Linked DNA regions of Homo sapiens. The protein of the gene in region 1 interacts with the protein of each later gene in a pairwise test. Each region holds a gene or a part of one and is shown on either strand. Other genes may lie near its edges. The genes, in order: NDRG2 and CLN8.

Region 1 (16,351 bases):
ATTTTTTACTAGCAGGAGTGCCAGGGGCCCAAGGACTCTTGGGAAGAGTCTCTCACCCAAGGACCAGTTAGAGCTCTTATTCTGCAAATGTAGCTCACGGACTCTGCAGAGGCTGAGATTCTGTGGTGGACCAGGGGAGCAGGGCTGGCTGAAGGTGGCTGGTTGTCTGGGTGGCCTTGGGCAAGCATCTCCTCTTTCTGGGTCATGAGAACTTGGTTATGGGTGAGATGATCTCTAAAGTACTGTTGGGTTGGGAATGCTGGAGGCTCTGGGATGTGGCAGACAGCCACTTCAGGCCCACTGCTGCCCCCAACCACCTTAACTCTACCAGCAGGAGGAATGGCACCAGCTGTGACCCGGCTCCTTTTCCTCCAGCTTGTTCTGGGGCCAACTCTGGTCATGGACATCAAGATGCAGATTGGCAGCAGGAACTTCTATACCTTAAGCATTGACTATCCCAGGGTTAACTACCCAAAGGGTTTCCGGGGCTATTGTAATGGTCTGATGTCCTATATGCGAGGCAAGATGCAAAATTCAGATTGCCCAAAGATCCATTATGTGATACATGCCCCTTGGAAGGCCATCCAGAAGTTCTGCAAGTATAGTGACAGCTTCTGTGAGAATTACAATGAATACTGCACACTCACCCAGGATTCCCTCCCCATCACGGTCTGCTCCCTGAGCCACCAACAGCCACCCACTAGCTGCTACTACAATAGCACCCTAACCAACCAGAAGCTCTACCTACTCTGCTCCCGCAAGTATGAAGCTGATCCAATAGGTATCGCTGGTCTCTATTCGGGAATTTAATTCCTGAGCCACTCCCCAACCTCTACCACCACAGGCCAGCTGTCTCCATTTCCAACACTCTGATCCCTGTAACAAGACTTCCTTCCTGACTTACGAGGCAGGCAGGGTCCCCTCCCAAGAGACCAGGTGGGTGCGAAAATGTCCAGGGCTTTGATCACCATGCAAAGTGGTGCTATCTTCTAGGTTCTTTCCAGCTTGTTTACCCCCTCTTCGCCCCCACCTCCTCATCATCCTTCCTCTCCCAGAGACAGTAAAACCCACCCAAGAAGTTGACTGTGTCCAGTTGGCAGTGACTGTCCACCCACTGGGCCAGATCCTAAGTCCTGGATGGAGGCCCAGGGCCTCAGCTCACACCATGGCAACAGGCACCAGCTCCGAGTCTCACCTCCCCATCCCCACCAGCCTTCTCATGTCAGCCTCCCCCAGTTCCCTTATAATTCCCTCCACTCACCCACCTACTCAGGGGATATGGCTAGCTATAGGAACCTCCCTGAGGCCCTCAGACTCATGTTAGCCTCACTTCCCCACAACCCCCAGTTTCCAGCCTGCTTCTCTCTGTGAAATCATGGTTTCTCCCTTCATATAACTGTCCTCTCCTGCTTCCTCTTACCATGGAGCCTAGGACTGTCTCCCCCACACTCCCAACAACCGTAGTCACCCTGCCTTCCTTTTTCCAACCTCTTTTTCTTCCAGTCTTCTTACCTTGGCTCACTGGCATTTCAAGGTATCTTCTCTCACCCATTCCCCAGAGGTTCCTGCTTCCCTTCTCTTCCAGAAGCTCCTCCCAAATCCCCCAGACTCCAGAGTCTGCCCCTGACCAGGCAGCGAATGAGGCAGGCCCGGCTCTAATCGAACATAAATTTCTAAAACCACATCTGAGTATGTAAGATGTAACCATTGGGGGAAACTGGGTGAAGGGCACACGAGCCCCCTCTGTACCATTTTTTGTAACTTCCTGTCAACCCATAATCAATTCAAAATAAAAAGTTAATAACACACATCTGACTCTGTTGTGATTTAATTGCTTTTTCTTCAGTGCACCAGAACTCCTGCTCTTGGAATCCTGGCAGCCTGCCTCATCTGGCCATCTTCCTGAGCTACCCTTAGCAGTCAGTAAGCTCTTCTGTCCCATGTGCCCCATGATGGAGGTGATGTGGGGTAAAACTTAGTTCTGGGCTGGGTGTTGAAAATAGACTCTCCCCTTACCCCAGCTCTGGAACAAATTTGTAATAGAAGTCAGGCAACCTTAGCTGGCTTCTACTCCTCCACCCAAAAAACCTGAATTGCAACAGATGAGGAAGGTGGAGGGACAGGGAAGGATCTAATATGTGATATAGTCATAGTCCATCACGTGAGGAATTGCTACACCCTTTTGAGGGGTGGGGGTGGAGAGGTGGATATCAGTAATGTGTGAACACAAGTAGTAGATACTTTTACCTCCACATCTGGTTCATCTCTTTACTCCAAATATATTCTTCCATCCTGTTCTTGGAAGCAGCTGTTGAGGAGGAATGCTAACTGATGGCTGGTAGGCATAAGGCTAAGCAGAGCGAAGGGTGTGTGGTGGAGAACCCACCCTCCTGTGCTGCCTCTTCTCCCTCTCTCTACACTAGTAGGCTCATCTGTCCCTCACAGACAGAGATTTTGGCTGCTGCACACACAGATGTTTATTGTTTTCCAAGCTCCCTGGTGTTAAACATGCAGGGTCAGGGGGCTAGCAGGCTGAGATGAAGCTCCTCTCTACTTGGTCTTCTTATCGTAGGTGCCAGAACCCTTGTAACCACTCACATAGCCTGTGTTGTCAGTCATCTCTTCCCGTCCCGCAATGCCCTTGCCCTTGCCACTCTCATCAAAGCGCTCCTTGTGGGTGCCGGTGTACTTGCTGGTGTCTGTCAAACGGTCCACTGCACCCACTGTTGTTGCTTTCTGCAAGCCAGGGATGGATTTGAGCTCTCTTCCTTTCCTTACGCTGTCATATCCCTTCCCCAAAGATGGCCCGAGATACTTAGAACAAGTGCTTGGAGCTCTTGCTCTGCCACTGGCATGGGGTGCTGCTTTCTTAGGGCCCAGATACAGCTGTGGGCAGGTACTCTGGTAAGAGCCGTTCACTCATGGGGGAGGAGGAGTGTGGTGTGGGAATGAGTGTGGCGTGTGCAGAGGGAGGGTAGGTTTTTTGTTTCCAGAGGAGTTATTCTGACTAGGCTGCTGCCTGAGGACTTCACTCCCACTCCCCGACTCAATATCCACTGTAGAAAGAGCTTTTAGTTCAGACAGGACAATTAAAAAAGGGAGTAGGTGAGAGGCAGGAGGCCTGAGATTAAACCCTAAATAAGAATTGGAAGAGGAGTGGGCATCAGGTACCAAATTCTCTACACTAATGTCCTCCAAAAGCTACCAAGCCCTAATTGCCTGGCTCAGATACTAGACACTTGGAAATTAGTCTAAATCTACTATTAAAATAGCCATGGACCTTGGGCAAGTCACTTCCCTTCTCTGGGCCACATTTTCCTGACTTCTGGAATGTCTAGATGATCTCTAAAGTCTGTTTCGGCCCTGTCTCTACAGTCACACAGTTGGCAGGGTTAGGGAGGGTAGACTGGAACAATGGGGATTTAGGGAAGTAGGGTCAAGGGGATGAAGGCTGTCACTCACAGTAGCGCCAGTGGTGGCTGGGTCTTTGCCCTCCATGAGTCCATAAATGTTCTCCAGGACTTCATCTGGACTCTTCCCTTTGAAGCGCTTCTGGCCCAGTTCCTTCACTGCCTCTTTGAACTGTTGAAACGTGATGGTTCGGGCGTTCTTGGCCCTGGTCAGTTAGACAGAAATCCAGAAACTTTGGAGCATGAATGCATTACCTTCCAAGGTCCAACTCTTGCCTCACTCAGATTTGGCCTCTTTTGTCCTATCAATCAGTGAGTGTCTCGAAGACAAAGGATAGCACAGCGCCAGGTACCCTGTGGTGCTTGGTAGGCCCACTGCAAATGTTCCACCACGTGAACCCTTCCGTGGCCAACTACCTCGCAGGTTCTTCTCACCCCCACCTCCATATTTTTGGCTCCTCACTTGACTTTGCTGAACACGATGTCCACGTCCGTGGAGGTGACTGTCTTGCCATCCATGATGCCACAGTCTTTGCACAGCTTGGAGAAGTTCTTGTTGTTCATTTCAGTGCCACTGCTTGATGATTCTCCAAACGCAGCAAACCGATGGAATGTTTTTTCTGCCTCTGATGCCATGGTCAGCTAGAGGTCGGGGAGGGCAGTCGTGGGAGACACTTGGGGGTGAAGGAGAAGGGGGAGGGAGGACTGTGGAGTAATGAGGATGAGTGTTATGGTAAAATCAGTCAGCAACAGGAACAGCTCCCCTCTTCCCTGTTGCTCTCTCCTTTCTCCCTCCCAGCTCCCATTGCACCTACGCAACTACAGCATGAGTCTCCCATTCCCAGCATTGGAGATACCAGTGTGGATCCTACCTACTGAATGATCCTCTCTTTCCCCTACCTCTTTTATGTACCTTAGAGTACCCGGATGGTGGTCTGACCCTTCCCGGCCTTTGTATTTAAGTGTGTGCAGATATGTGGGAGCCGGTTGGCTGTGGCAATGAGGAGACAGAGGGAGGAGAGGGAAGATTCTATGACCTCAGCAGTGGTTATGTGACATCACTTCTGGCCCCAGCTACAGCCATTGCCTTCAAAGGAGGGGGCTTTTGGTCTCCCTACCTTGCATGCCGAATTGAGCAAACTGCCAACTTTCTGACCTTTTCAGATGATCACATTTCCATCATTTCAGCCAAGCTTACCCATCCTCTGGGTCCTAGTCAAATTGCCTTATGCTCTGCCCCACAACAGAAGCTGAGGCGAGCCCAGGGAAGGTGTTGTAGTCTGTTTGGGCTGCTAGAACAAAATATCAAACTGGGTGGCTTATAAACAACAGACATTTATTTCTCAGAGCTCTGAAGGCTGAGAAGTCTAAGATCAAGGTGCTGGCAGATTCAGTGTTTGGTGAGGGCTGCTTTCCGGTCCATAGATGGCACCTTCTTGCTGTGTCCTCACATGGTAGAAGGGGTGAATGAGTTCCCTTGGGCCTATTTATAAGGGTATGAATCCCATTCAGAAAGGCTCTGCCCTCATAAAACTTAATCACCCCCCAAAATGCCCCATCTCCTAATACCATGACTTTGGGAGTTAGGATTTTATTTTATTTATTTGCGTATTTATTTTGAGATGGAGTCTCGCTGTCTGTTGCCCAGGCTGAAATGCAGTGGCATGATCCTGGGGCACTGCAACCTCCAGTCCCAGGATTCAAGCGACTCTCATGCCTCAGCCTCCCCAGTAGCTGGGATTAGCCCAGCCACTATGCCTGGCTAATTTTTGCATTTTTAGTAGAGACGGGGTTTTGCCATGTTGGCCAGGCTGGTTTCGAACTCCTGACCTCAAGTGATCCACCTGCCTCAGCCTCCCAAAGTGCTGGGATTACAGGTGTGACCCACTGCGTCCAGCCGGGAGTTAGGATTTTAATATATGAATCTGTGGACAACATAAACATTCAGACCACAGCAGTTAATGAAAACGGATTAATGAAAACAGGCTGTCATGTTTTCTAGTCTCCAGGCTCAAGTGTAGCATGGAGAATCCCACTGGCTTTAAAAGGCCAGTCGCAATAGAAACATTAAATAGCTTCCAGTGTTGGGCCCAGCAAGCCTTGGAGTATAACAGATGTGGACAGGTCAGGATAAAACTGGGATAGACTGAGGGTGAGGCTCAGATTCTGAAAATCTTCAGATAAGTTTCTATGCAGGTCAAAGATGTTCCTCAGGGTTTTCTCTCTTCGGCCTTTTCTCTGGCCAGAAGCACTACAGATAGATGAACCTCACGGATCCTAAAACAGAGCAACGAGACTGGTGACTTTCCTCCTTTTCCCATCTAATAATGCCACCACTTTCTATTTTTTTTCTTTGTCTTACAAATCTATGCCTTTCTTTCCATTCCTATTGCTTCCACCCTTATTCAAGTTCTTATCATCTCATAGTTGGATGACTACTCTGGTTTCTAAATGATCTCTTTTCTAAATCTAATTCTTCACTCCCACCCACCCATAATCCATCTCTATTACCTCCTCCCCATCAGATTAATTTTCACAAAACAGTATTTTTTATTACTCCTGCTCAAGAATATTCTGTGGCTCAAGATATACTATAGCTTCTCATTGCTAAATCTTTTTGCTTAGCATTCAAGGACCTATACAACTAACTAGGCCCCAATCTACCCTACCAAACATCACCCACCTCTCATCAACATTATTCTTGGGCAGGGCACAGTGGCTCATGCCTATAATTCCAGCACTTTGGGAGGCCAACAAAGTGAGACCTTGTCTCTAGATAAATAAATAATAATAAAAAAATTAGTTGGGAGTGGTGGCATGCACCTGTAGTCCCAGCTACTGAGGAGGCTGAAGTGGGAGGATTGCTTGAGCCCGGGAGTTTGGGGCTGCAGTGAACTAGGATTGTGTCAGCGCACTCCCACCTGGCTGACAGAGAGACCCCATCTCAAAAACAAAACAAAACAAAACAAAACAAAAAGAACCCCAAGAAACAAAAAACCTAAGAACCAGATTATTCTGCAGCTGGGGTCATATGGCCTAATTGCTATACACTTGACAGGCTACTTGGGAGTGGAAGGAGCATAGTCCCTGGAGTGGAATGGACCGGGGTGGGGAAATGAATCCTAGATATGTCATTTACTAGCTGAGTGGACTTGGGCAACTCACTAAACATTTCTGAGTTTCAATTTTCTCATCTGTACAGTGAGGACGATAACACTAACCTTACGGTATTAGGGGATAATACATGGGAAGCTACTATTCAGTTCTCCAAAGTAACCTGAATGTTTCTGCCTCCAAACTGTCCTTCATGCTCTCTCTGTGCCTGGATAGAATGCCCCTCACTCCCACTCAAGTATTCCATGGTTGCACTTCTCATTTGGTGGTTCATCCTAGGAACAAAGCCCTTTTCCTTCTCTGAATTATAGTAAGATAATGATTTCTAGACTGTGGGCCACAGCCTCCTGGCGTGAGGATTTCTGAAATCTTGCAAAGGGCCCTAGAATCTGTATGTATAAAGAGTGAGTGTGAACTGAGTAAATAATATGCCTTGCATGTGTAGGTATTACCGCATTTACAGATGTTGTGACAGAAACTTACTTCAAAGTATTGATGAATTCATAGTTTGCATTTTCTCCATCAGGGGATACTATACCTATTATGTGGGGTTGGAAATCTCTAATCTCCCACTTGAGAAGGGTGGGAAACTACTGCTATAGGACTTACTGTCCAAATGATTGATCTTATATATAACTTGTCCTGTGTTTGTACCTTCTCTTGACAAATGTCAAAATGTCATTTCTCATCACAAATGTCTAGAGAGGGTGTGACCAGATGCACACTTTGAATTTCATCTACACAGTGGCTTGCACATAACAGATACTTAAAACTGTTGCTTACTTGAAGGTATAGTGTGAAGCTGCTCTGGCCAAAGGGAAAGAGTTTAGACAGAGATTGTCCTTGCAACACTTACACCCTGGTTGGGCTGGGAGCTGCCCTGACATGGAAGAACCATATCTTAGGGGAGAACCAGCCTTACTTCTGCCTGCAGCAGGCTGGGTGGGACCCCAAGGTCTAGGAAGCCAATGGATGTCAGTGGAAATTTCCCATCTCCTGCCTGCCCTGCGCCCCTGCGTAGGCCCCTTATCAGGTTCCCCCTGAGTCATCCTGACCCAGAGACGAATTTAGATGCTGGAACCTTCAGGTCCTTCCCTCCCCCACTCCAAGTAAGACGACTTTTGACAAAGAAAAGCCTGCAGGCAAAAGTTCTCACTCGAGGCTCTCCCTCTCCCCAGGTTCCTCTGGTGCTGATGAGATCTCTCCTGTCTTGCGCACCTTTGGCTGTGACCCTTATTCCAGCAGGCTTTTCCTTGTCCAGGAGAGTGTTAAACTGGCATCCAGAGGGAAGAGGGGACTAGGAGAGGAGCCAGGGTGCCCAGCTTCTGTGCCAGTTTCTGGGGAAAAAGTTATAAAGGGAGTGGGAGAAAGGAACAGAAGAAAAGTTGGGTGCTCCAAATTGGGGGATGTAGGGGGAGCTCCTTAGATTTGGGGTTGTTGAAGGCTGGGTTTTAGCCCGACCAGTTTTCCTACTGTGGGTCACCTCCTCCCTCTTGGCCTCTCCTTCTTTCCAGTAGACCCTGCCAAGTGGGGATGAAAGGGGCATTGATGTTCCTTGGATGGGAGGGGTATTGCGGGTGGTGAGGGTGGTGGTGGGAGGGTGGTTCCCAGGCAGGAGGGGGCAGGGAAACTTGGGGGTCTTGGGGGGGCAGTCGGTGCTGGTGTTGCAGTTGGCAGCTCAAGTTCCATTGGCCATTGTTCCTGACTGGCCTGGCGCCCAGCCCCCGAAATGGCAACTCAGGAACCAGTCTGAAGGGGGTTGGGGTGGATATGATCCTGGGATTGGGGGAGCTACAAGGGGGGCAGGTGGGGAGAAATTCAGTCAGGTTTCCTTTTGCCTAAACAACTTCGAATTCCCTTAAGCCACATTTTTAATCAACTAACTCATTCCAGGGAGCCTTCCTCCGAGGGGCACAAGGAGAGCTCATTCCAGGGTGTGTGTGTGTGTGTGCGTGTGCGTGTGTGTGTAAAGTCTACAGTGGCAAACCCACTCGGGCACCGAGAGGGACGCGGCAGACCCTGAGACCATCCCCCGGGCATTGCGATTCAGCGGGCCTGAGCTGGTCTCCTATTCTGGGCCGGACTGGGAGGGGTTAGCGGCGAAGCCACAGGGTCTCTTGGGTCCCAGCCCAGGACACTGCGTCCTCCCCAAGCCCCTACTCCACCCCCGCAGGGTTAACTCCGCCCCTGCGCCTGTTTACCCAGGAGTCAGAGCCTCTGGGGGTCCCCGGCCCCTCCCCCGCGCCCCTTGAGGCATTGACCCCAGAGTCCCTGTTGGCCATCCTCTCCCCACCCCCCGCCTGCCCGCGATCGCCCTCTATTTATAGCGGCCCCCCGCATTCCCCGCCCCCACCTCCCCGCCTTGTTGTCCAACTTCTCCCGGAGCAGCCGGAGAGCAGGCGTCGGGACGCAGCAAAGAGAGGAGAGGTACCAGGACTCTGGGCACGAGGGAGTCGGAACTCCTGCGCCCTCGACGTTCCCCCGTGCCCCCTTTCGGCGCCAGCACACCTGCCCCTGCCAGCCGGCGAGACCCCCGCCTCCTCAGCGGCGGTCCCGCCCACCTCCTCCTTTCTTAATCTAGTTCTCTGTGTTCGGGCGGGGGGAGTCGAACTCGTGGGGTGTCAGTATCCCGGGTTCGTCTCCCCACTACCGGTTCCCACCACTGAGTCTGGGGGCGAAGGAAGGAGCCAGAGTGCAATTGCAGATCCAGGTCGTGGATGGGGCGGTGCTGAGGGCAGCCGAGGGATCCCTCTCAGGGCTGAGGGATCCCCGCACTCCCCACACCGCCCCAATGCGGGGAGGGGGTGGTGGAATGTTTTGGTGAGCCGAGCAGAGCCTGGAAGCGTCCAGCCGCCCGCCCCTCGCCCCCCGGCCCCAGCACAACCCTTTCCTGAGCGGCAGTCTGGGCGGGGTGAAAGGGGGGGCGTGTTTACTGGGGGTCTGGGGCGGGTCTGCGGGGAGCCTAGCGCCCGTGGGCGGGCTGGGGCGGGCCGGGGGCGGGTCTGCGGGAAGCCCGAGCCGGGGCGGGCCCGAGTCAAAGGCAAGTGAAGGTGGAAGCGGCCGCGGCGGCAGCAGGTAGGGGGAGGGGCAGGCGAGGGGCCGTAGGGCCTGGAAGGCGCCAGCCGGGCCGGCGGGCGGTGTGATTGATCCGCGTCCCCTGGAGCTGGAGGCTCGGGGGAAAGGGCCAGCACGGAGCGGGCGCTCGGTTGCTGCGCACAAAGGCTGAGGCTCCAAGAGCTGCAGGGCGTGTTTGGGGTGCGCGCGAGGTTGTGTGCAAGGTCCGGGGCGCTTGGCACCGGCCACGCAAGGGTGTCAGTCTCCACGCGGACGGGCTGCGTAGGGACTCGTAGGGACGGGTTCCGGGTGCTGGGCCCGGCCGGTCTCCTCTGTCCTACCCATCCCTTCCCGATGGCGCTTGCCTTCGCGGGCCGTCGGGGGAGAACGGGAGAAGATTGTGGGACCGCTCTCCTCTCCCTTTCTCCACTCGTGGGACCTACACGGAGACTGAGTAGAGGAGAGAAGCGACGGCACCAATCTTTGTGTTTGTTTTTAAATTGTGGAGGGAAACAGCCATGCTCTGCTACCCTCCTCTTACTGGAGAGCTGTCAAAAATTTTGGGGATCCCCTATTCCCCCGCGTTTAGTCCCCCTGCAGATAGAAAATTGAGGCCAAATGTAGTAACTAACTGGGGCAAGGTCACACTGGGAGTGGCAGAGCCGGGATTCGAATCCGGAGGTTCTGACAGGGCCACCCTCTTACCTCCACATCAGCACTTCCTTCTCTCCTCCGCGCAGCCTGAACTGATGCCCTTGTAGCCTATATTGATTCCGGCTCGAGCCTAGAGAGGACGTGTTCTCTGGACTTAGGGGTAGACAGACACTGGGGAGGGTTAGTGACCCGAGGAGGTTGATGACCCTGGGAGTCTGGGTCTTGGCTGAGGCTTTCCGTCCCTGAAAGACCCCAGGTCTGTCTCCCATGTCATTCACCTCGTTGCTGTGTTTTCTCAGACCCCAGAGTCAGAAGGAGTGAGAACCCTGACCCCTAATCCCACTGCATCCAGCCAATAGGAGCCCAGTAAGTGACCCCACCCCGCAGGCTGCAGGCTCCTTCCTGTGCAGGTCTGTCCAGGTGCTCTGCTCCTCACCCACTAATGTTGAACTTGCGGAGTTTATTCAGAGTTGGGAGGAAGGGTCTTGGGAGGAAGGGAGGCATTGGGTTGGTTGGACAGATGTCCCTTTTATGTTGTTTTCCCCACCTCCCCCATTGGTCATGTTGCTTTGGTCATTTTTAGCCCCCTTTGAGCTGCCGACTTTGGGGCTTTAATTGAAGGTCATGGTCAATTGTGAACTCTCACAGTCCCGTCTTTTGGTACCCTGTCCTTTAGAATACTCAGTCACTGAGCTACAAGTTTCACTCCCTACCTGAGAGTGTGGGGTGGCCCCTAAATATAGCCCGAGAAATCTGAGCTACACTTCTGCCCCACCCTGGTATTTTGGTCCAGGGCAGAGGAGGGAGGGGTCTGGAGGTGTGGTGTTGAGGGTGGCAGTGGGGATGGTGAGTATCAAGAGAAGGGCTGTCCTGATTCCTCTTCCAAAGCTTCCACCGATCAGCCTGGAAACGGAGCTGGGGGCAGGAAAGGCCCTCTGTGTGTTCTAGAGTAGTCTTCAACCCCTGGGTCCCTCTGTTCCCTGCATCTTCCTGTGCTGAGAGAGGAAGCCTGGTGTTTGAGGCGATGTGGGGATGTAGAGACAACTTCCCAGTCTCATTTCCTCATCCTGCCAGGCCACCATGGCGGAGCTGCAGGAGGTGCAGATCACAGAGGAGAAGCCACTGTTGCCAGGACAGACGCCTGAGGCGGCCAAGGTTATTAGAGACCGTTTGACTCCCATGCCCAAATTCCAGACCTCTAAGCATCCCCCTTGCCTTCTAACTTCCCAAGCGTACTGATCTTATTCTAACTCACACCACTGCTTCACCACTACCCTAGTCTCTCTCCCCATACACTATAATTGGGAGTCAGGCCCTTGTCTCGTCACTACACTAACCTTCATCCTTTCCGTGTCTCTCTTTGTCAATCTCTTTCTGTCTTTGGTCATTTGTTGGTCTGTCTTTACTTGCCTCTCTTTGTCTGTTTGTCTCTCCATCTGGGACGCCACATGGTCATGTGTTTCTGTGTGAATCCGTGTGTGTCTCTCCAGGAGGCTGAGTTAGCTGCCCGAATCCTCCTGGACCAGGGACAGGTAACAGTGTGGGGGCAGTCCCAAGGTGGGAGGAGGGGCTGTCCTCTTCCCCAGTAGAAGGATGGCCTCTGCTTGGCCCTCTCTTCTCTCTTTGCTTTCTTTCCTTCTATTCTAGTCCTTTCCCTTCCCTATCTCTCCCCTCTCCTTCCTTCCCCTCCTCTTCTCTCTCTAATCTTCATTATTCTTTCTTATCCTCAAACTCATCTTCCGGTATCATGTTTTCCTCAATTCTTGCTGATCCTGTTTTTAATTCTTTGTTCCCTTTTCCCTCTTGCCCACCCACTCCCAGCTCCCTGACCTTGGTGTTGCTCCTTTTCTGGCCTCGTCTCCTCTGAGCCTAGCTCTTGGTGCCCTGTTTTCCTGCAGACTCACTCTGTGGAGACACCATACGGCTCTGTCACTTTCACTGTCTATGGCACCCCCAAACCCAAACGCCCAGCGATCCTTACCTACCACGATGTGGGACTCAACTGTAAGGACCTTCATTCATCTCCCACTCCTGTCTGGGAAGAGGCTGTGGGGGAAGGGTAGAAATGAAACCCAGAGGGAGGGGAGGGGTCAGTGTGGGAAGGAGAAGTTCTCTCCTGGTCTGACTGTGGCATGAAAGGAAGGGTGAGTTCTGACTGGGGGACACGAGTCCCTGTCTGATTCTATTGTTGAGGTGATGTGGGTTCTCTTTAGATAAATCTTGCTTCCAGCCACTGTTTCAGTTCGAGGACATGCAGGAAATCATTCAGAACTTTGTGCGGGTTCATGTGGATGCCCCTGGAATGGAAGAGGGAGCCCCTGTGTTCCCTTTGGGGTAAGAGTTAGGTCGTTACTGCTTCACCAGACTGTGAGGAACAGGACAGGTGCGGGAAAGGTTCGACTGGGGAGGAGGAAAGGGAGGGCAGTGGTTATTCTGGGAGAGAATGAGTAGGACATCCTGAGGTGGGGGGTGTGAGGGCAGGTTGGTATCTTCCTTAACATGCCTCTCTTTTCCAGATATCAGTACCCATCTCTGGACCAGCTTGCAGACATGATCCCTTGCGTCCTGCAGTACCTAAAGTGAGAGGCCTGGGAACCCCTCCAAACCAGAGTTCTCTTTCCAGCACAAGGAGACCCTTAGAACTTCCAGGTTCACCGTGGTTCCTGAGCCAGTTTCAGCTTCTGAACTCAATATATCTTCTTCCTTCATGCTCCCGCCTTGATTATTGAGAAAAGGTGGTGGGTTTGGAAAATTGGCCAGAGTCAACAGAATAGCCCTAATGGGTGGAGGGAAGGAAAAGGGTCTATGCTTGGCCCTGCCTCAGGCTAAGGAGGGCCTTCTCTGATCAGAAAGTCAGGGAGGAATGAAAGGGGGTGACATAATCCCTGAGGAACCAGATAGACCTGTCTCTTTCTCTCCCACTCCCCTCTCCTTCATGCCCACACCTGGTGGATGGGGAGCTCTGCGGGTGAGAGAGAGTTGGGGAAGGAAGAGAACACCAGACCAAGTGTCTTTGGTATTCAGAGGGAGGTGCTGGCCCCTGGGTGCTGTTCTTAGCTAAGCTTCTCCTAGGCACCAGGGCTCAGCAGCTCTGGTTCACCACTTTGCCACTCTTTTCCTCATTCTCTCCATTGTTCACTAAAATTGTGTCTGTTTTCACATTTGCTTTAAGTTCCATTCTTCCCGTTCCTCTAGAGGAACCAGGAACTAAAGCAGAACAAGTTGAACTGGCTCTTGAAAATTGAGAATGGACAAAGAGCTATCTATATGGGAAAACAGTGTGTTGGTTGGCTGGTGGATGGGTGTTTGTTTTTAAGACACTAGCTCTCCAGCAGAAAGCTGGGGATAGACTTCAGGTATCTACCCTGACTACCCGTGCCAACCTTTGGCTTCTTGGGCCCTTCTTTTTCGCGTCCTCCAAAGAAAGGTCCGTGTCTGCCTTTCTTTGTGCCCGTGGACTCAGGAGGGAGGGTGAAGAGTTTGAAGAGATGGGCTGTGGCAGGTTTTGGACAGCAGATCCCATGAGGCGTATATTTCTTTCCCTTTCACAGTTTCTCTACAATAATTGGAGTTGGTGTTGGAGCTGGAGCCTACATCCTGGCGAGATATGCTGTAAGAAATAAAAAGCCCAGAGGAGGGAAAGGAGGGTCCAGACTGATTAGGAGAATACTGTTTATTAGTGCTGTTTGGGGGAGGAAGTGGGCACTAGGTGGGGAGTCAGGCCCTGTGGGAGTCCAGGAGTGGGTCGAGCTTAGCGGGGAGGGGATAAGGCCATGCCCTGTTTCTCATTTCCTTCCTTCTGCTGTCCCTCAGCTTAACCACCCGGACACTGTTGAAGGTCTTGTCCTCATCAACATTGATCCCAATGCCAAGGGTTGGATGGATTGGGCAGCCCACAAGGTTTGGAGGGGCCTGTGTGCTGAGACCTACGGTTGGGGATCCCCTCGTATGGATCCAGTTAGGCTCTGGTAGATAGCCTAACTGGATGGACTCTGAACTTCAAGGAGGGAGTAAAGGGGCAGGAAAGTGAAGCTGTCACTTTGCCTGAGTCTCTTATAATATCCTGAACTTTCTTTTTCTTTTTCTTTTTTTTTTTTTTTTTGAGATGGTGTCTCACTCTGTTGCCAAGGCTGGAGTGCAGTGGCTTGATCTTGGCTCACTGCAACCTCTGCTTCCTGGGTTCAAGTGATTCTCCTGCCTCAGCCTCCCAAGTAGCTGGGATTACAGGCACCCGCCACCACGCCTGGCTAATATTTGTATTATTAGTAGAGATGGGGTTTCACCATCTTGGCCAGGGTGGTCTTGAACTCCTGACCTCGTGATCCACCCGCCTCGGCCTCCCAAAGTGCTGGGATTACAGACGTGAGCCACTGTGCCTGGCCAATACCCTGAACTTTCTCACCTGCCTTCTCCTCATAGCTAACAGGCCTCACCTCTTCCATTCCGGAGATGATCCTTGGACATCTTTTCAGCCAGGTAAGTGGGTGTAGGAGATGTAGAAGAGTCGACGGGAGCAGCAGGGAACTTGAATGCTTGGGCTAACTTCCTTAGCTGGGACAGGATTTGGGGAAGGAAGAAGGCTTACCTCTTTTCCTCCAGTAATTGTTGTTTTCTCTTTCCATCCCTAATTTTTCTCCTTGTTCTCTCCTTCAGGAAGAGCTCTCTGGAAATTCTGAGTTGATACAAAAGTACAGAAATATCATTACACATGCACCCAACCTGGATAACATTGAATTGTACTGGAACAGCTACAACAAGTGGGTGGGCTGTGTGTGTATGCATGTGAGAGAAATGCAGAAGCAGTAATTGGGCGTCATGGGGGAGGCACAGAGGAGGAGAGGGAAGTCTGGGTAGTGTGCAATGTGCAAGGAATGCAGCATTTAGTGTGCAATGGGGGCAGCTTCAGGACAGAGTCAGTGGGAAGGATTGCAAGGGGCTGTCCCCCTTCTCTTGTTTACCTCCTTTGGATTATTGGACTCCCAGAAGTAAGATGATCTTGTGTCCTGTGTCCTTCCTCCCCTTTTGTTGCCCTCTGACCAGGGATCTAGGGCACAAGTGACTATAGGGGCTGTGCTTGGGGCCTGCCTGCCCCTTTCTCCTTTGGTTTCCACCTTTAATAACCAAGATTTGACCGTAATTTTTAGACAAAGATAGTTCCATCATGGGAGAGATAGCTTATATCTGGTTAGATAGCATTGCCCACCTAAAATTCCTACTCTTTTAACCCCTTTCTAGCCGCCGAGACCTGAACTTTGAGCGTGGAGGTGATATCACCCTCAGGTAAGACTTTAAGAGATAATGCATTGCCTGTCTCCCTGGATCTTCCCTAGGAGCTTGTGTCCCTTAGAAGAAGGAGAATCTTTTGCCAGGGAACTTCCTTGTCATGTCCCACCCCATCCTATTTGGTAAATCACTTCCCTCTAGGTCTTCCCCCTTTGAATCCTCTTGGTGGCATCAGCAGGGAGACACAGAAGTGTCTTTCCTCTTTGGAGCCAGATATTTTTCCAGCTGCACTCCTAGGCAGAGGCCAGTGAGGGAGTGCCAGGGGCTCACTGCCTTCTCCCCAACACTGTGTCTTTAGGTGTCCTGTGATGCTGGTGGTAGGAGACCAAGCACCTCATGAAGATGCAGTGGTTAGTAGGGAATTTTGGGGTGAGTGAGGGAGGAGGGTTGGGGTCCTAAAGTGGTGGTCAGAAGAGTATCTTGCCAAGGGGATGTCCTGTTTGGCACAGGGAGATCAACTTTGGGGCACTAAGAATTTGATTCCTGGTAAGGAGGAACTGGGTAGGGAGCTGATAGAAAAGGGACTGGGGTCTGGGTTCCTGGGTCCCTTACGGGGGAGGCGCCACAGTGGGCGTGACCTCATTCATTCAGCCTCCTGCTTACTCCAGGTGGAATGTAACTCAAAACTGGACCCCACCCAGACCTCGTTCCTCAAGGTCAGTAACCTGTTCCTGGGCCCCCGTCCACAGTCATATATCCTCTCTACATGCAGCTGCTAAGCCTCCAGGGCCCGGCATGGGAGCAAATGGGGTGAACGAAGAACAAAACAAAGGGGCTAGAGTGAAGAAGCTAGGGAAGAGAGACCCTTTCCACCTCTCTGCATGGCTCATTTATGT
Region 2 (14,795 bases), on another chromosome or scaffold:
AAAGAAGTGGAAATGTACAGATAATGGAGTTCCAGGAACAGAGAAAAATAAAAATGGAGAAAAAAATATTCAAAGGTAAAATCAGAAAAATTAAAGATGAAAGCTCTCAAGTTGAAAGGGCTTAGAGAGTGTCTAATAGGATGGATGGGAAACTTACCCATAATTGACAGTGAAACTCAAGAATATCAAAGAAAATTCCAAAAGTTTCTATGAAGAAGAGCAGATCACTGACAAAAGAGTAAGTTTCATTTCAGAGTTTCCAGAGGCCACAATGGGTGCCAGAAGACACTGGAGTAATATTTTTAAAGCCCTCAAGGAAAATAATTTGACATAGAAGCCAGGTGCAGTGGCTCACACCTGTAATCCCAGCACTTTGGGAGGCCGAGGCAGGTGGATCATGAGGTCAGGAGATGGAGATCATCCTGGACAACATGGTGAAACACCGTCTCTACTAAAAATACAAAAATTAGCTGGGCATGGCAGCGCATGCCTGTAATTCCAGCTACTAGACAGGCTGAGGCAGGAGAATCCCTTGAACCAGGGAGTTGGAGGTTGCAGTGAGCTGAGCCAAGATCATGCCACTGCACTCCAGCCTGGGAGACAGAGCAAGACTCTGTCTAAAAAATAAATAAATAAATAAAATAAAATAAAATAAAATAAAATAAAACATAAAAAAAGGAATTTGACATAGAATTTTATAGCCAGCTCAACTGTCACTGAAGTATAAGCACATACCAAATTATCTTCCAATATAAAAGGCCTCAGAAGATCCACTTTTCCAAAACTCACTTTGAAAACGTTCTTCAAGGAAATTAGAAGATAAATAAATCCAGGAGGATGTTGATAGGAACTATGGGTATAAAAAACTTTAGATCAAATAGATTTTAGTAGTCTATTGTTATCTAAAAAAGCCAGGAGCAGCCAGGTGCGGTGGCTCACGCCTGTAATCTCAGCACTTTGGGAGGTCGAGGCGAGCGGATCACAAGGTCAGGAGATCAAGACCATCCTGGCTAACACAGTGAAACTCCATCTCAACTAAAAATACAAACAATTAGCTGGGCGGGGTGGCGGGCGCCTGTAGTCTCAGCTACTCGGGAGGTTGAGGCAGGAGAATGGCGTGAACCCGGGAGGCAGAGCTTGCAGTGAGCCAAGATCGCACCACTGCACTCCAGCCTGGGCAACAGAGCGAAACTCCGTCTCAAAAAAAAAAAAAAAAAGGCCAGGACCAAAGTGAGGAGAGAAGATGAAGTACATTTACAACAATGCAAAAGTAAATATTTAAACAGAATCAACATGGGAGTCCAAAGATTTAATATTAATCTGCTCAGGAAATCAATACGATTAGCTATGTATTGATGTGGATCTTAAACTAAAGGTAACCACCATTAAAATCGATAGGAGAAACTTAGGGAAAAAGAAATGAATGTAAAAGCCAATTATGAATGAAGGAGGCAGAAATAAAGTCCTGCTGCAACCAGACACAATCAACTTAATGAGCTAAAACACCAATACGAAGCTTGGATTTATAAAGAAAGAATCAACAGTTTTCCAAGAGAAGCATATTTAAAAGTAAAGGATACTAAAAAGTTTAAAATAAATAGAAAAAGAAGTACTAGGCAAATTGGAATCAATATAAAACTAGATAGTAGCCCTGCTATCTGCCAAGTCCAAAGCAATCAGCGAACAGCATGCTGTTACACACCTGAAAGAGGAAACAGATGAACAAGATGCAACCATCATGATCACATGTGTACTTAAGCATGTTTCTTTAAAAAAGCAAAAACTGACCGGGTGCAGCGGCTCATGTCTGTAATCCCAGCATTTTGGGAGGCCGAGGCGGGCGGATCTCCTGAGGTCAAGGGTTTTCGAGACCAGCCTGGCCAACATGGCGAAACCTCATCTCCACTAAAAATACAAAAACTAGCTGGGCATGGTGGCGCATGCCTGTAATCTCAGCTACTCGGGAGGATGACGCAGGAGAATCACTTGAACCCGAGAGGCAGAAGTTGCAGTGAGCCGAGATTGCGCCACTGCACTCCAGCCTGGTGACAGAGGAGACTCCGTCTCAAAAAAAAAAAGCAAAAACTGACACAACTCTACAGAGAAAAACATAAGTTGGCAATTATACTAGATATTTCTTAAAACATATAAAATAGCAGACATCAAAGATTTGAAACATACAAATTCTAAATTATTATATTTACATAGAACTCTGCATCCGATGGAGACTATACTTTTAAAAATGCATAGAATGTTTACACAATTTGATCATATATCATGAAAAATGTATTTAGCAAGAAAGAAACACAATAAACTCTAAAGCAACAAAGTGTGTTCTAATGTAATAGTAAAATAAATTTTGAAATAAATAACAAAAGGATAGAAGTTTTAAAATACCACATTTTTGGAAAGGAAATGACATTACTAAATATCCCTTGGGTTTAAAAGTAAACCAGAAGAGGGTTACAAAATATTTAGAACCAAATGAAAATAAAAACAAAAATGTCACACTTTGTGAAACAATGTTAAATTAGCACTTAAAAGAAATTTTATAATTTCTAATGTATTTACAGGAAGCAAGAAAACTTCAAAATAAAACAAAATATTCAATACAAAAATCTGAAAACTGAATAGAAACACTGAATACATTGAAAACAACAAGAAGAAAGGAAATAATGAATATAAGGACAGAAACAAATAAAAACTTATCAAAAAGATTAGCCAAAAAAACCACTACTTCTTAGAAAGATTAATAAAGTAGAGCTTGAAAAAGACCAATCAAACCAAAAAACAAGCAAGTAAGATACAAATCAACAAAATATAGAACAAAAGACCCTACAGATATAGAGAGATTTGCTAACATAAAAAAGTACTTTTTAAAAAATGTTACATTAGTTAGGAAATATAGATGAAAGACATATGTTTTTCAAAAATATAAATGCTGAAATTGTAACAAGAAGGATTTCTGTAAAAAAAATCCTGCATGATTTCATGTGTAAGACGGCCTAGAACAGGTTAACTAATCTAAGTAGAAAAATAAACTAGAAAGGGATCAAAGACCTAAATGTAAAAGGTAAAACTAGAAAACTCTCAGAAAAAACTATGAGTGTCAATCTTTGCAGTCTCAGGTTAGGCAAAGCCTTTTGTGATATGATCCGAAAACCACAAACAACAAAAGAAACATAGAAACTTCTAGAAACATCAAGAGAGTGAGAAGACAAGCCCCAGAGTGCAAAGAGGTCTGTGCAGACCAGGTGTCTCATAAGTGGTGTGCATACAGAATAGATCCAGAACTCTTCCAACTCCACGATCAAAGAATTACCCTACCAGGCCAAAAGGACACCGGATGTGAAGAGGCGTTGCTCTCAGGAAGACACACGAAGGGGCCAGGTGCCAGTGAGGTCACTCAGCGTCATCAGCCATCAGGGAAATGGGAAGCAAGCCACACTCAGGCACCACCGCGCACCCACTAGCATGGCGGTCGCGACGCAGATGGGCAGTAACAAGGGCTGCTGAGGATGTGCCGAGCCCGGAACCCTCACGCACTGAAGGGAGCGTAAAGCAGCCAAGAGTGCAGGTGCTTCGTGAAACGGTCTGGCAGTTCCTCAGCATCTAACCAGCAGTGGGACCCAGCAGTTCCATTCCTAGCGGAATACATAAGAGAGGGGACGCCTATGTCCCCACAAAAACATGCACATGATGTTCATCCCAGAACTGTTCATAACAGCCAAAAAGGGCAGATGACGCAAATGGCCATCAACTGATGGACAGCTACATAAAATGTGGTCAATCCATACGATGGGGTATGATTTGGCAATAAAAGGGAATAAAGAACTGGTACACGCTACAACACGGATGAACCTTGAAAACATGGTGCTGTGTGAGAGAAGCCAGCTGCACAAGGCTATGTATTGTATGATTCCCCTTATAGGAAATGTCCAGAATGGGCAAATCCATAGAGACAAAAAGATAGCAGTTGCCTAAGGTCAGGGAGGAGGACTGGGGCGGGGCGGGGGGAGGGGGGGCGGGAGTGAGGGTCGGGGGGCGGGAAATGGGTAATAGCTACTAATGGGGACAAATACTTTTTTTTTTTTTTTTAGGTGATAAAAATGTTCTAAAATTGATTGCGGTGGTTTCACAATTCCATGAATACTAAAAAACACTAAATACACTTTAAACGGGTGAATTTTATGGTATATGAATTATAGTTCAGGAAAGCTGTTAAAATAAACGAACTGGTTCCTTTTGGAGAAAACAGGGCAGGAGAAATAGAGAGGAGAAGACATTTCTCTGGGCACAGCTTTTTGAATAGTTTTAACTTTTGGAATCATGACATTTTACATATTCAAATAATAAAATTATCAAGAATCGGGGAAAATGCTACAACAGAATGCCAACAAAGGAACCCAAGTGTCTGTCAAATGATTAGCCATCATCTGAAGGGGAGTCGGGACAAAACAAATTTAAGTAATTTTTGGAGACAGCACTTTGACTGCATACCCTCAGACTAAAGAAAAAAGCTGCAAACAGATCTGGAACTCTCCATGGGTTTGTTTCTTGTGGCCCTGTGGGTGGAGCCATTCCAAACCTGCTCTGTGTTACAGCGTGTTTGAGCCATGCGTGATGCTGTCTCTGCTGTTGTGAGCCGGGGTCGTCACCATGCAAGACGGGATGCACAGGAATGAGGCAGGCAAGGAAGTGCCGTGGGGCTGGGTTGCAGCAGAGGTAGAAGGGTGTGGAGGTTCTGATGGCCCATGAGCAATGAGCACATCTCCCACCCACATCTTAACTTCTAAATTCCATTCCTCACTAAAAAGAACCAGAATTCTCAGAGAAAGGGCTGGATCCAACCACACGGCAGAGAAGGCGTGTGTCTGCTGCATACAAAATAAGGACGTGGCCAGGTGCGTGGCTCACGCCTTCAATCCCAGCACTTTGGGAGGGCGACGCAGGCGGATCACAAGGTCAAGAGATCGAGACCATCCTGGCCAACAAAGTGAAACTCCATCTGCACTAAAAATACAAAAATTACCCAGACATGGTGGCACATGACTGTAGTCCCAGCTACTTGGAAAGCTGAGGCAGGAGAATCGCTTGAACCCAGGAGGCAGAGGTTGCAGTGAGCCGCCACTGCACTCCAGCCTGGCAACAGAGTGAGACTCTGTCACAAAAAAAAAAAAGCAAGAAAGAAAAGAAAAGAAAGAAGGACGTGCTCCATATACACCACGGAATACTATGCAGCCATAAAAAAGGATGAGTTCGTGTCCTTTGCAGGGACATGGATGAAGTTGGAAACCATCATTCTGATAAAACTATCACAAGGATAGAAAACCAAACACCGCATTGTTCTCACTCATAGGTGGGAATTGAACAATGAGAAGACTTGGACACAGAAAGGGGAACATCACACACCGGGGCGTGTCGTGGGGTGGGGGGAGGGGGAGGGATAGCATTGGGAGATATACCGAATGTAAATGACGAGTTAATGGGTGCAGCACACCAACATGGCACATGCATATGTAACAAACCTGCACATTGTGCGCATGTACCCTCGAACTTAAAGTAAAATAAAAATAATAATAATAATAAAAAGAAATGCAGACATGTAAAAAAAAAAAAGAAAAAAGAAAATAAGGATGTGCTCAAAACAAGGACTGGTACAAAGAAGGACGATTCAACAGCCTGAAGAGACCCCCACAGCAAACCTGGAACAACGGGAGCAGCAACATCACAACAACAATCAATTATAACCCACTATAAATAGAATACCGTTGCCAAACAGAGAATCCAAGAACCCACAGGGATAATAAACAAACACTGGGAAGAAAGTAGCCCTTCTTTATAGAATGCAGTAAGAAGTGACGGAGTTGGAAAATTAGCAATATTGAGCCATCACCGTGAAGGTTGACCCAACTGAGTGCAAACGTGACTTGGTGCCAGTGAGGCCAGCTTGGGGCAGGAGGCAGCTTTATGTGCAGACAGGGCGTTCTCAGCCTCAGCAGATCTCCCGCAATATACCCAAGGACGAGGAAAATCAGTGACTGTTCAGAGGAGGAACCACCTTATCAGGGACCAAAATTAACATTGCCAATCAGGGCAAGCTGACAGACGTCTCTGTGTTTGATATCTCAAGGACACCGTTTACAGAGCACTCCAGCCAGAAATATATAACTCGAATTCCATCCTGACAAAATACCAGACCAAACCAAATTGAGGGCATTCTTTAATATAACCAGCTGGTATTTGTTCAGAAATATCACTGCTGTTAAAGACAAAGACAGGCTGAAGAACTGCAGCAGGTTAAAGAAGAATAAAGAGATATGATTACTAAACAGAGCATGTGATCTGGTACTCCGTCCTGGACCAAGAAAAAAAAGGATAGGAAAGAAACCGTCAAAGTTGGAATGAAAACGGTAGATGAGATAAAAGGTACTGGCTCCATGTTACATTTCTTGAATTGATAGCTTATGTGGTTACATAAGAGAATATCATTATTCTTAGGAAATAAACATTGAATTTTTTATTTTTTTTTTAGACACAGTCTCACTCTGTCACCCAGGCTGGAATGAGATTGCGTGATTTCAGCTCACTGCAACCTCCACCTCCCGGGTTCAAGCAATTCTCCTGCCTCAGCTTCCCTAGTAGCTGGGATTACAGGTGTGCACCTGGTTAATTTTTTGTATTTTTAGTAGAGATGGGATTTCACCATGTTGGCCAGGCTGGTTTCGAACTCCTGGCATCAGGTGATCCACCCGCCTCAGCCTCCCAAAGTGCAGGGATGACAGATGTGAGCCACTGTACCCAGCCAATAAACACGAAAGTATTAAGGGGTAAGGGATATAAAGTAACGTAGGGGAAAGAAAGAAAGAGGAAGAGGCAAGGAGAGGGACAGAGACAGTGGGAAAGGGAAGAGACACTGCTATGACAAACGTGGCAAAAAGTTAAAAATAGATAAATAGGGATAAAGAGTATATGGAAGATTTGTTCTTTTTTCCCCCTCAAATTTCTGTAAGTTTGAAATTAGTTCAAAATAAGAAGCTAAAAACAAAAATAAAACGGAACAGAGCAACTTCCTTTAAACCAGGAAGCCTCCTTTTGAAGCTGCAGCATCTGAGATGCAGGCGGCGAGTCCAGCCCCTCCACTCTGTCTCCCCTCCCAGCCAAGATGATTTTTAAAAGTCCACAGTTGCAAACCGTAAGTGTCTCCTAGGGAGAGCTTTCTATCATTCACGTGGTTAACATGGTTAGCAGGTTAACACCTTCATCCTGTGTGTTTAGGAACGTCTGTGAGAAAGGGTAAAGGTGAACACGGCAGGTGGGGCGTTTCCTTCACTTTTGCGGTCAGGCCGGTGTTTTCCTTGCGTGATGGGACCCCAGGCTGGTGGCCCAGGGCTGTGCCACTCGTTGCTTCCCATGCCTGAGTGTGGATGTGGATCCTCATGCCTGCCCCTCATGGTGCCAACGGCAGGTGCCCCTATAGGCATCGGGACTGTATTTCAAGGAAAAAGGAGGCAGGAAGGGGCGGGAAGGTGTCCTCAATCCAGGCTTGCCTTCACTTGCAAAGGCAAACGCACTCAGCTGCAAGCCCTCCCCTTCTCAGTGGCCAGAACTGTGCTGTGTGCATGCCAAGGGCCAGAAGACAGACACCAGCTGGCAGAGGACTGGCTGACCAGGGACCGACGCTGGCAGAATGCAATTCCAGTCCTGCAACTAGTTCCAAATTAAAATGTAAAAAGCCACATTTAGCAAATGAGATTTTTCCTGAGCTTTATTTTTTTAAGGGCTGCGTGCTTTCTATTTGAGATAATCTGAAATTACAGAAAACACACAATGGGAATATCGCATGGTGGCCTCCACCTTTCTAAGCTTTGGCTGTTGCCACAAAACCACTCTATGGCTCTAACGTTCTGTGCTCCGTGATTGTTTTGTGTGGAAACAAAATCTCTGGGGTTGACCAGATATGCTTGGAAATTCCTTGCAACAAATGAAACAGCAGCTAAAATGCACTGTGTTCCAATTGGGATTTTGCATTTCCCATATGATTTTTGAAAAACAACACAGAAAACGTGAACGTTACAAGGACTATAAAACTTTTCTGTGTAGGCCAGGCACGGTGGCTCATGCCTGTAATTCCAGCACTTTGGGAGGCCAGTATGGGAGGACTGCCTGAGCCCAGGAGTTTGAGACCAACCTGAGCCAGACAGCAAGACCCCATTTCTACACAACAAATTTAAAAATTAGCTAGGCATGGTGACATGCGCCTGTGATCCTAGCTACTTTGGAGGCTGAGGCAAGAGGATCACTTATGCCTAAGAGTTTAAGGTTACAGTGAGCCACGATCACGCCACTGCACTCCACGCCTGGCCGATAGAGAGAACCTGTTTTAAATTAAAAAAAAAAAGTTTTTTATGTAAAGTTTTGGCAGAAACTTTTCAGATTGAGACTTGACATTTAATAACTTTCTGTAATAATGGAGGATTTTAACTTTGGTTTAATTTTTGGACTCTTTTGATGGGTTTGAGGTTGCAGGTATCAAACCCTGCAGGAATGGGCTGTGCACGGCTTCAGGCGGGCTGGAGTGCTAACTGAGGCTGCCAAGCGTGAAACAGCACAACGGTAAAAGCAAAATACATGCAGAGAGAAAAGAAATGAATTCACTCCATGGGCCTGCAGATGTGGAAAAGAAGTGTCACTAAGGCCAGGCGCCTGTGCTCTGGGGTTCCTGGCCAGGTTCCCAGAAGGAAGGGTGTGGTTTCTTTTTCCTCTTGGATGGCTGGCTGTGGGTCCTGGATACCTCGGAATCAATTCCAGACATTTGGGGTTGAGTCATCGGAAGAAAGGAAATAGAGACGTCTGAATTTTTCACATCACTATATTTTAAACATGATTAGGCAAGTATATTTTTGTTACTAAAATAGTAAATACATTTTACTAAGAGTGAAGTACATTTTGTTACTAAAAAGGAGAAAAGTTATTCAAAATGATAAATATGGAATTAATAAGCTCTCGCATTAGAAGAAAATAGGAAGAAAGTTAGCAAAGAAAGGGGTGAACTGAAAGCGTCAACATGCATTCGTGAAAGTCTGGGTGCAGTTTATTCTGATTTACTCTGAGGTGAGCTGAAATCAGGACCGCAGGGTGGGCGATGCATCTGTGACAAGGCTGGACAGACTCATGGGTGCCTGCCCCCCCTCCTCCTGCAGCCCCTCCCCCAGGGCAGGCCTCCTGTCCTGGGAGCCAGGCTGCTGGCATGTCACACAAAATCACGTGTGCTGGGTTCTGCACAGAGCAAAGCCAGGTATGCAGCACAAGGCAGGCTGTCTGGCTCTCGAAGACCCCGATAGAGAGCCCCCGCAGGCTGGGCATATTCTGACCCCAGAGGTGGCAGCTTCCTGCAGTTCCCTGATCTGTCATTCCTGTCCTGTGACTTCCAGGGAGGGGCAGCTCCTGGGAGACCCACCAGCTGACACCTGGGACTCTGCCCTTCCTTCCTAGGCTGCTGTGTGAGTGGGGCTGGGGTCTGGAGACCCTGAGGGCTGCCCCAACACCAACACCCCTGCCTGTGCTCCTCTTGTGACATGGGTGCGTCCTGTCTTTACTGCCGAAGCCACAGCAGGGGTTTAGGGAGCCCGTGCATCTGACCAGTACCTGTCTAACCCCACGCCGCCTGTGCCACCGTAATCTGACCGGTACCTGTCTAACCCCACGCAGCCTGTGCCACCGTAATCTGACCGGTACCTGTCTAACCCCACGCCGCCTGTGTCACCGTAATCTGACCGGTACCTGTCTAACCCCACGCCGCCTGTGCCACCGTAATCTGACCGGTACCTGTCTAACCCCACGCCGCCTGTGCCACCGTAATCTGACCGGTACCTGTCTAACCCCACGCTGCCTGTGCCACCGTAATCTGACCGGTACCTGTCTAACCCCACGCCGCCTGTGCCACCGTAATCTGACCGGTACCTGTCTAACCCCACGCCGCCTGTGCCACCGTAATCTGACCGGTACCTGTCTAACCCCACGCCGCCTGTGCCACCGTAATCTGACCGGTACCTGTCTAACCCCACGCCGCCTGTGCCACCGTAATCTGACCGGTACCTGTCTAACCGCACGCCGCCTGTGTCACCGTAGTCTGACCGGTACCTGTCTAACCCCACGCCGCCTGTGTCACCGTAGGACAGAGCACAAAGGAGCACCCAGGATGCACACCTGACACACTTCGCGGCCGAGCCGCAAGCCTGAGGAGCGGGAGACCCTCGCGGTTCAGCGGCGTGAGGGCAGAGCGACGGAGCCCCTCCGCTTCTGTCTGCGTGAGCACATTCGCATAGAACAAGAGTTCTGACCTGGTCAAACACTTGACACGCACATAATGGAGGAAACTTTTGGCATGCTATCAAATGCTTTCTCACATGCACACAACATCTCCTCCCCAGCATGAAGGAAAGGCAGCTGACCCTGGCCGACCCCACCCCAGGCTGGCCCCCACCAGAGGCCCGAGCGTTTCCCCTTCTGGCCACACGTTTCCAGTGGCCACCGTTCTCTACTGAGGACATCACCTCCAGCCGCTGGTCTTGCCAGGCAGCCTGTGCGAGGGTGAAACTGGCTGCCCAGCCTCCCAGCCCTGCCCTTACCGTGGTAAATTCCCCCCTCAGCAGGTGTCCCCATATCAGCCCTTGGGTCTGTCCCCTGCAGGGCCCTGCCTGGCAGCCCTGGGTACTACTGGTTCATCCACTCCCTACTGCCAAGCAGCCATCCTGTGCCAGGGACATGGGGCTTAGAATCAATCAGAGAATAAAACAGATGCAACCCTGCCCGTGTGGAGCTCACAAAATTCGGACATGGGAAGAGAACCACATTCACCGGGTGCTGATGCTGCAGTGTGACCGTGTCCCCTCCAGAATTCACATGACATTGTAATTGTCATTGCGGTGGTATTAAGAGGTGGGGCCCCCTACTCTTGCAAATGGCTTAATGCCTCATAAAAAGGCAGCGGAGAACTAGCTGAGGCCTGTTGACCTTCCATCCCCTCCACCACGTGAGGATGCAGTGTTCCCAGCAGAAACTAATCAGCCCACACCTTTATCTTGGACTTCCAGCCTCCAGAACTGTGAGAAATGATGTCCGTTCTTTTTTTTTTTTTGAGATGGAGTCTCACTGTGTCACCCAGGCTGGAGTGCAATGGCGTGATCTCGGCTCACTGCAATCTCTGCCTCCCAGGTTCAAGCAATTCTTCTACCTTAGCCTCCCAAGTAGCTGGGACCACAGGCATGCACCACCACCCCCAGCTAGTTTTGTTTTTTTAGTAGAGATGGGGTTTCACCATGTTGGCCAGGCTGGTTTCAAACTCCTGACCTCAAATGATCCACCCGCCTCGGCCTCCCAAAGTGCTGGGATTACAGGCGTGAGTCACCGTGCCTGGCCTGAATGTCTGTTCTTTATAAACTACCCAGTCTTAGGTGTTTTGTCACAGCGGCCCATACTGCCTGAACCACGACTTTCTGCGCTAAATGCCGTGTTGAAGAGCCCAGCTCTGGCGCCGGAGGCTGCGCCCAAGGCAGGCACGGCTGTTCACGAGTTGCGTCACCTTGGGCACGTCATCACCTCTCTGAGCCCCGAAGCTCCTCGACAGAAGTGGAATCAACAGTGCCCATTTCATTCAAGTTGTCCGGGCGAAGAAAATGGAAAATCATGTCCCTTAAGCGCAATACCTGGTAAAAAATCTCACACTGAACTGCGGCCATGACAACTCCAGCATCACCCAAGGAGCCTGGACACCGAGAAGGGCAGAAGCCTGTGCGGCCCAGCCCCCGCAGCGCGGCGAGGAGGCTGCACCAACCCTTGGTCTTCAGTCACTCAACCTCCCTGGCCCATTCTGTTTCCCAACTTAAGAAACAAAACAAAACATAGGTATAGAGAAGGATTTCACTATCGAAAGAGAAAGCGCACTGACAAGTGATCACACTGAAGCCAAGCTGGAGAGCCACATCCTGGCTAAACGCAGGGCCATTTTCTATCCGGGTCACCTGCCATCAGGTGGAGTTAAGGCCGATATTGCCCAATCGTCCTAGTTTTCAAGCAGTTCCAGAATTCCTGTTATGTGAACTCACCTCGTTTAACACTTGCTGTAACTCTCAATAGAGGATGTGAAGCACGCAGCACACACGTGCAGCTGAATGCTGGCCAATGTGGGCCGCTGAGTGGGCCGGGCCCAGGCTCACACCAACCTGGCACCAAGAAGTCAGAGCTCATGAATGTCGCTTGTACCATGCTCCACTATAGCTACATCCCCTCACACTGCCGGTCAGGGAGACTGAGGCCAGTGAGGACCATGGGAAAGTGCTGTGCCATCTGGAAGGTGTACGCATCATTAACATTTCACGAAGCCTTTTCCACCCCTAAACCCCCAACTTCAGGCTCTGCACTGAGGGGTCCCCGGACCAATGTGTGGGTGACACTGGACGGAGCGGGTGAGCCTGTGCTTCTCTACAGCACCTCCATCTCTATGCATCCACACACGCGTATGAAGATACAGGAGGTAAAGTGTGGACCCCTGGGAAGGTCAAAGTCCTAGTGGAGGTGAGATAAAAATTAGGCTGTCCACTTCCAACTCCAAATCGAATTCTGAACACATGATGAATTTATCATTATATTTTCTATCTCCAAGATAAAGCATTCACAGCAATATGAATAGGTTAGTTTATTTTGAGAGAGAGGAAGACATCATTTGGGTTCTGTAAACATCAGTCACTTTATTATGCCTCTGTCTGGCTGAAAAACACCAGCTCCTGCTGACTCCACAAGGGCACGGCTGCAGAGAGTGCTGCCTGCCAGGTGTGAGGTTTCCAGTTAAAAGTTTCAGCAGGGACACCATTTGCTGGATGTGTTTAAGATTAAAATTGCTTCGTAAAATGTGATAAATAGGTTACTATACACCTTGGTCAATATAGTTAAAGCACCAGCAATCAAAATACACCGCTCCGGGCCGGGTGAAGTGGCTCACGCCCGTAATCCCAGAACTTTGGGAGGCCGAGGTGGGCAGATCACTTTTAGTCAGGAGTCAGAGACCAGCCTGGCCAACATGGTGAAACCCTGTCTCTACTAAAAATACAAAAAATCAGCCAGGCATGGTAGAGGTACCTGTAATCCCAGCTACTTGAAAGGGTGAGGCAGGAGAATCCCTGGAACCCGGGAGGTGGAGGTTGCAGTGAGCCGAGATCACACCACTGGACTCCAGCCTGGGAGCCAAAGCCAGGCTCCGTCTCAAAAAAACGAAAACAAAAACTAAACAAAAACAAAACACTGTTCCGAGAGTTCCATAAAACATAAGGAACGTAAGTCACACATGATTCTCACGAGCAGCCGACGTTTTCCACGTACATTTCAAAGGTGCTTGTGATAAAAAATAAACTTTGAATTTTAATTGCACGTTTATATCAAAACACTCACACACACACACACACACACACACACAATTCTGTATGTCTGTTAACAACATTGCTAAATTGCTGTGTAACTTCTACCTGGGTATAAAACAGTAGAACAATGTACCTTGGGACTCATCATCAGGCAGCTCATTGCCAGGGGCTGCTGCAGGACCACTCTAGGGACCCCAGGACCCTGCAGTCGAGCATCTCTGAGGGGTCCAGGTCCACCCTACAGCTCAGGGAGAAAATGACATCACTACTTGTCTTGAAATCTACAGAGGAACACCAACCACAGAATTAGGGTCTAGATTGGGTGCCTGTAGGTAACTCAGTCAATTAAAAACAGCTCTGAAACCCAGACAACCTGATTATGAAATCCTTACCTTATTTTGTCAAATGAGCAACACAGTATGAATAATAACTTCTCATTTTAAAACAGGTACCATGATTTAAAAAAAAAAAAAACTTGCAAGATTTCATCTTTACCAGCCCACGCTCTGGTTGGTGGGGGTTAAACTCCAAGGCGTCTCTGCTGCTACAGGAGTCACTACCCCTCAGCGTTGTCTTTGTACCACTTGCCACCAGATGGCACTGCCGTACACTTCGGTCTAGAATTTTTTTTTTTTTTTTTTTTTGAGAGAGAGTCTTGCTCTGTCACCCAGGCTGGAGTGCTGGAGTGCAGTGGTGCGATCTCAGCTCACTGCAACCTCCGCCTCCCGGGTTCAGGCAATTCTCCTGCCTTGGCCTCCCAAATAGCTGGGATTACAGGTGTGTGCCACGACACCCGGCTAATTTTTGTAATTTTAGTAGAGATGGGGTTTCACCATCTTGACCAGGCTGGTCTCGAACTCCTGGCCTCAAGTGATCCACCTGCCTCGGCCTCCCAACGTGCTGGGATTACGTCGGGTGTGAGCCACCCCACCCAGCTTAGAATTTCATACGCTGGGAAGCTTTAATAAGGAACAAATCATGTTATTTTCTATCTTAGCCCAATTCTCTCCAACTGAAAAGAATGTGACTTCTGAATAAGACACACGGCATATGAGTGTGCAGCTGGAAAGAGTCAACGCTGACCCACCCGCCCTGTGGGAGGCACTTCACTATGAAGCCATTTCCAGCATTCAAAGCCACCCCACTCCTCAACAGGTGTGACGCCCCGATGCCTGGACACCATGGACTCCTCTCCTAGATGCTTGACACGGTCCGGCGCGGCTAAACTGACAGAGCCTGCCAGACAGTCATAAAATTATAATTTCTTAAAAATACTTTGTAGCTACTTCAAAATTAATACTAATGCGAAAGAAAGTTAGTATTTCCCTTAGAAGTAAACACAAAACATTCACTGCCTCATTAATTCAAAAGCCATCATTC

Evidence for each region.
Region 2: the proteins of NDRG2 (region 1) and CLN8 interact in a two-hybrid assay, tested with the Homo sapiens proteins (one study listed by BioGRID).

The regions. Positions count from the first base shown.
Region 1 is NC_000014.9:21,018,277-21,034,627, reverse strand, and holds the start of NDRG2 (protein NDRG2), read left to right. Parts: upstream 1-9,566; 5' UTR 9,567-10,598; exon of another isoform or gene 10,599-10,652; intron 10,653-11,120; exon of another isoform or gene 11,121-11,306; coding exon of another isoform or gene 11,307-11,312; coding exon 11,313-11,387; intron 11,388-11,722; coding exon 11,723-11,764; intron 11,765-12,130; coding exon 12,131-12,236; intron 12,237-12,445; coding exon 12,446-12,566; intron 12,567-12,748; coding exon 12,749-12,811; intron 12,812-13,783; coding exon 13,784-13,844; intron 13,845-14,045; coding exon 14,046-14,132; intron 14,133-14,651; coding exon 14,652-14,708; intron 14,709-14,885; coding exon 14,886-14,989; intron 14,990-15,467; coding exon 15,468-15,512; intron 15,513-15,813; coding exon 15,814-15,865; intron 15,866-15,964; coding exon of another isoform or gene 15,965-16,001; intron 16,002-16,106; coding exon of another isoform or gene 16,107-16,123; coding exon 16,124-16,171; intron 16,172-16,351. Other genes in the region: RNASE13 (probable inactive ribonuclease-like protein 13 precursor), read left to right, coding at 340-810; TPPP2 (tubulin polymerization-promoting protein family member 2), read right to left, coding at 2,551-2,736, 3,463-3,616, 3,874-4,046. UniProt on the Homo sapiens protein: Contributes to the regulation of the Wnt signaling pathway. Down-regulates CTNNB1-mediated transcriptional activation of target genes, such as CCND1, and may thereby act as tumor suppressor. May be involved in dendritic cell and neuron differentiation.
Region 2 is NC_000008.11:1,780,630-1,795,424, reverse strand, and holds the end of CLN8 (protein CLN8), read right to left. Parts: 3' UTR 8,855-14,795; downstream 1-8,854. UniProt on the Homo sapiens protein: Could play a role in cell proliferation during neuronal differentiation and in protection against cell death.